Linked DNA regions of Homo sapiens. The protein of the gene in region 1 purifies or fractionates together with the protein of each later gene. This does not show direct contact. Each region holds a gene or a part of one and is shown in the gene's direction. Other genes may lie near its edges.

Evidence for each region.
Region 2: the proteins of RAB9A (region 1) and CHM purify together in Homo sapiens (affinity purification with mass spectrometry; 2 studies listed by BioGRID and IntAct, with this or other methods). This does not show direct contact.

Annotation. Positions count from the first base shown.
Region 1 is NC_000023.11:13,708,566-13,711,004, forward strand, and holds the end of RAB9A (ras-related protein Rab-9A), read left to right. Parts: intron 1-155; 5' UTR 156-181; coding exon 182-787; 3' UTR 788-1,939; downstream 1,940-2,439. UniProt on the Homo sapiens protein: The small GTPases Rab are key regulators of intracellular membrane trafficking, from the formation of transport vesicles to their fusion with membranes.
Region 2 is NC_000023.11:85,957,059-85,960,558, reverse strand, and holds part of CHM (rab proteins geranylgeranyltransferase component A 1), read left to right. Parts: intron 1-1,581; coding exon 1,582-1,698; intron 1,699-2,583; coding exon 2,584-2,704; intron 2,705-3,500. UniProt on the Homo sapiens protein: Substrate-binding subunit of the Rab geranylgeranyltransferase (GGTase) complex.

The DNA of each region.
Region 1 (2,439 bases):
CTGCACATGGCTAAGTGCTCAGTAAACAACAAGTCTTATTATTAGGTATTCCCTGGGGCCATATGTTTTATTTCAGCTAAATGCTGATATTCGTAGAATCATGTAGAAGAATGTGTAGGTATAAAGGAATGTAATGGTGCCTTTTTATTTTACAGGGTTCTTGAAGCTTTTGAGATTAACAATGGCAGGAAAATCATCACTTTTTAAAGTAATTCTCCTTGGAGATGGTGGAGTTGGGAAGAGTTCACTTATGAACAGATATGTAACTAATAAGTTTGATACCCAGCTCTTCCATACAATAGGTGTGGAATTTTTAAATAAAGATTTGGAAGTGGATGGACATTTTGTTACCATGCAGATTTGGGACACGGCAGGTCAGGAGCGATTCCGAAGCCTGAGGACACCATTTTACAGAGGTTCTGACTGCTGCCTGCTTACTTTTAGTGTCGATGATTCACAAAGCTTCCAGAACTTAAGTAACTGGAAGAAAGAATTCATATATTATGCAGATGTGAAAGAGCCTGAGAGCTTTCCTTTTGTGATTCTGGGTAACAAGATTGACATAAGCGAACGGCAGGTGTCTACAGAAGAAGCCCAAGCTTGGTGCAGGGACAACGGCGACTATCCTTATTTTGAAACAAGTGCAAAAGATGCCACAAATGTGGCAGCAGCCTTTGAGGAAGCGGTTCGAAGAGTTCTTGCTACCGAGGATAGGTCAGATCATTTGATTCAGACAGACACAGTCAATCTTCACCGAAAGCCCAAGCCTAGCTCATCTTGCTGTTGATTGTTAGATTGTTGATGCATTCTAACCAACTCACACATATACACAAAATCAACATGGGGATGGAGAAGAGAATTAGCGTTTGCAGCAGTGTATCATCTACTAATAAAATTAAACTAATGTTGCTGCTTCATTAGTTGGTGGGAGAAGGGACACATCCACTCTTGGAGGAATATATTTACTCAATAATGGCACCTTACATTTATAAATTGTAACAGTTGTCTAATAACGTTTCTTTAATTTAAATATGTAAGTTGCAGAGCTAATAAATGAAATGACCAAGACTTTAATTATAATAAAAATAAGAAACTTGACTATTCTAGAAGTTATACTTGGATTTTTTCCTGGGAAAATGGAGAACTACTTTTTATATGTGTATGTTTTTATGCAATTAGCATTGTATTCTTGGTTCAGGGAAATACTTTCCTAAAGCAATAATGTTAGATATTAAAGATTAAAATCTAATGTATTTGCAATGCATTGTTAATTTACTTCTTCATTCTCTTCAAAATGATTTAACCATTCCTGTTTTCATTCTACATACTAGAATTACTCTCACTAGTAATTACTCATCATTTGTGTGCCATTCATGCACCCCCACCCCCATAAATCATGTTCCACAGTCTCAGGCGGAGGGTGGGCCCCCAGTGGTACAAGAGTTGCTTCATACAGTCTGTAATACATCCAGCTAAATTCAAGTTGTCTATGAATGGAAAGCCTTTCCATAGATAGAGTTCAGTTTTAAGAAAAAGGCTAACTACTGAACTTGGAGAACAGACAAATGTGCATTTGATAACTGATGTAATAATTACAATGTACTGTGTGGAAGATACAAAATTACAATTCGATTAATGGACTAAATATTTTTGTTACTTTCTTGACCCTTGGGGAAAGTTTCTTAATTGAAGTTAAAACATTCCTTTATAACACAAGACACAAGCTGACTTTATCACTCTCAGAAGAAATACTAAGAAGGATTGTACTTTGTGAGAGGGTAAACGAAGACATCTTTATTCGGCAATGTATTTACTTAGTGTCTTCTCTATTACTGAACATTTAGTGATTTGCTCTCAAGGAGATTTTTTGTTAGAAAAAGACTTGTTGCAGTGATCAGACTTGATAAAGCAAATTGTGGTCTTTTGTGGATGAAGTTCATATGCTGTGTGGTTGGTGACTATCTGATTCTATGGAGGCTAACCAAAGCCTAGACTGAGTGTGGATGAGACCCTCAACTGGGGAGTGATGGGGATATCAAAGGACATGCTGGGTGAGAGGAGCTGACTGTCATGTAGGGAGTGAACCACTGCCCCCAGCAGAGATACAGTTCGGTTTTAAGAAAAAAGGCAAGGCCAGGCGCGGTGGCTCACGCCTGCAATCCCAACACTTTTGGAGGTCAAGAGGTCGACACCATCCTTGACAACATGGTGAACCCGGTCTCTACTAAAAATACAAAAATTAGTTGGGCATCGTGCCTGTAGTCCCAGCTTCTCGGAAGGCTGACGCAGGAGAATCACTTGAACCCGGAAGGTGGAGGTTGCAGTGAGCCGAGATCACATCACTGCACTCCAGCCTGGTGACAGTGAGACTCCACCTCAAAAAAAAAAAAAAAAAAAAAAAAAGCAAACTACTGAACTGGAGAACAGACAAACCTGCAT
Region 2 (3,500 bases), about 72 Mb from region 1:
CCAGCTACTCGGGAGGCTGAGGCAGGAGAATCGCTTGAACCTAGGAGACAGAGGTTGCAGTGAGCTGAGATTGAGCCACTGCACTCCAGCCTGAGCAGCAGAGAGACTCTGTCTCAATAAAAAAAAAAGAAAAAGAGGCTTAGATTCTGATATGTACACATTTATTATTTGTGAGCTTCAGAAACAAAAATCTAGTATAATTTTAATTGAAATTTGTTTTTGTTCTTGTGATATCTTAAATGCATTATTTTTCAAGCTGGCATTAAACCTTAAGGTTTATTGGATCTTATTAAATAAAAATGCAGTTTCATATTTTATATCTTAATGTTTGTGACATTATTATGGCTATGCAGGGATCCTTGAGTCTCAAATGTGTATCTTTTTAAACAAGTGATTTTTGAAGTAACTATTTTTTATCATTATTATAGAGTTAAGAATTGGCAATATATTCTTTAAAACATGGTCTCTTTCAGTAATGTAGTGTGTTAGGAAGAGGGTAATGAAGTAACGTGCCATATTTAATCAGGATGATCAGATTAGCTTCAAAAAAGTGATGTCAATTTTGTTTTGCAGAATGCTGAACTATTAGTTTATAAAATTTTACTTGAATGGTATTGATTTACTGATAGTCTTTACTGACTTATTAGTTGCTCAGACTAATGGTTTAGATTGATTTTTGAGATTCCTTTTTCTTTGTATAGTAAAGCTAATTTTCCCATTTATTTATTATAGATGTAACATTCATTTTTAATATTTATTGAGTTATAGGCATTAAGAGTATCTTAATATAGGAAATAGTCAAATCTGTTGCATTTAACCATACGGTTAACATGCTAGATAATACTGTTTACATTATTGATTTTATCTCTCTGATATTACTTATGAGATGTTGAAAGATTAAATCAATTTCTCCCATACATGCCAGCAATAATCATCATCTTCACTTTTTGAGAAAGACATATCTCATATAAACCCAGACTTCTAGAATTACAGAAGTACCTTATAATTTGACTTTTTCAGTGTAAATGCATCACAAATATTTTTTTCTTTTTTTGATGGGGTAGGGAGGTTCACTGGACTGATTTCTTCTTATAACTACCTGGCTTTGTGTAAGACTATAGATTCTTATCCAAAACCCTCAGGGCCTGGTGTATTCTATCATTAAGATTAAAAAAATATATTTTAGAAAGTAATGAAGTACATATACTGATATGTTATATGTTAGGTTAAATTATTAGCAGGGTCTGAGGAGGAACTCTAACTAAACACATTATTTCTGCAGTGAAATATATGAATATTTATGTTAATTTGGACAAACAAAGCCAGAGTGCCTTATCAGTATGGATCAGGTTTTGCTGCTAAACATGTTTTGTAAAAACTTATGGATTGCAAAGTTTTTTGAATTTTGAATTTCAGCTAATCAATTCTGAGCCTGTAATAGATTGTGTTATGTATTATAATATTTATAGGTATGATTGTTTCTACAAATAATAAAAAATATAGCAAAATTATGTATCTTTATTGTTTTCCAATTTTTCTACTATTTCAACTTTTATCTTGTAAAATATTTTCTTTGTACAGCTGCTGTATTCTCGAGGATTACTAATTGATCTTCTAATCAAATCTAATGTTAGTCGATATGCAGAGTTTAAAAATATTACCAGGATTCTTGCATTTCGAGAAGGACGAGTGGAACAGGTACTGTGCTGATCAAGAATTGTAACTGGGCATCAGCTTAAGTTATTATGGTTTGTTTTGGAAAGATAAGCAAATAAGATTGTTATTTTCCTCATAAAGCAGTAAATTCCAGTCCTCCGTGGTGATTTACAAATGTAAATGCTTAATTAAAATTTCTAGTGCTAATTTTCTCATGGCTTACTCTGCAGCTTGGTGTTGGTACCAAGCAGCACACAAAAAACCAAAAAGCACACCAGAGTTACTATACCCAAGACTAGTCACACAAATCCTTTTCTCCCATTAATCAAGATTTTGGAGAGGGAAAAGAAAGAAACGGTGATTTTTGCTGTCCACTTGATCAGATTCCACACAGAGGAGGAGGCCCGGAGCCTGGTTGGGAAAAAATTCTTACCCTTATGACAGCTGATCAGATCCTGGGTTCTTCACTGCAGCTTCCAGAAGAGCAGAGCTTTGCTATCCTGCTCACAGCACCAAAACTGTAGGGGCCAAGGGAAACACTCCCTCTTAAGCCTCTGAAGTTTCACTGAAAAATCAACTCACAAAGGCAGATTAATTGGAGAAAAGGCATAAAAATGTACTAACATGTACATAGGGAGAACCACAGTGTTTGTTTTAGATAGCACTGCTAAATTTTTCTCTGTTAGGATGACATGCCGTTGGCCTTTTAATGGCATGGGGAGTAACTTGGCAGAATTAAGTAAGAAAGCTCACAATTAGCTCTGAAGTTAGCAGAGATGCCATTAGTACTGATGGACGGTGATGTGAAAAAGCCTGGCTAGAGTGGAAACGATAATCCTGTTATATGTAAAGGGGAAAAAAGTGTAATTTGGAATAGTTATATCATTAGGAAGCAGTTTCTTAACTTAAAATCATAATATTTTTCAGGTTCCGTGTTCCAGAGCAGATGTCTTTAATAGCAAACAACTTACTATGGTAGAAAAGCGAATGCTAATGAAATTTCTTACATTTTGTATGGAATATGAGAAATATCCTGATGAATATAAAGGTATTTTTTTCATTAAGTAGTGCTCTCCAATTATTTGACATTTCTTACTATTTTAATATGCTTGCTCTGATTTAGTGAGCCACTTATTACTGTTTTAAAATGCATTCTAACTCTGCACTATCAATAGGTTAGCCATTAGTAACATTTAGCTATTTAAATTTAAATTAATTAAAGTGAAATAAAATAAAATAAATTCAGTTTCTCAGTCTTATTAGCTGTATTTCAAGGGCTCCCATAGCCCCATGTGGCTACAGTGCAGATATTTTCATTGCTGAAGTGGCATGCTAGATTTTAATTTTTATTCTTATTATTTAAATACTACTGTCAACTGGCTCTTCATAGATGATAATCTGTTTTCATGATTCCATTATTTTTTCTCATAAGTAAAAATACTATATATTTTATCATTTTCCAGGATTGCTTTTGCATAGAATCTTGAACTATTTCGTTTGAAAAAAAAAGGCTAGATGGTATATGGGGAAAAATACTGGATTCAGAAAAGGCATGGTTTCTATTCTTGGCTTTGACCTATTTCATTATGTGATCTGGGGCCAGTTACTTCATTGTCTGTTAAAAATTGAATATGCCATTTTAGTGTCAGAGCTATATACTTTAAGTCCATTGGTCTGAAAATGTTATCCAAAATTGGAATATACTATTGATAATTTATTTATAAAGTTACAATGAGAAGTGCAGCGATATTTTTTTTCCTCTGTGAAATAATGAAAGTCTAATCCTTGCTCTTAAAGCTTCAAGTCTACTAGGTACTGTCATGTTGTTATCCACAGTGGCTGTG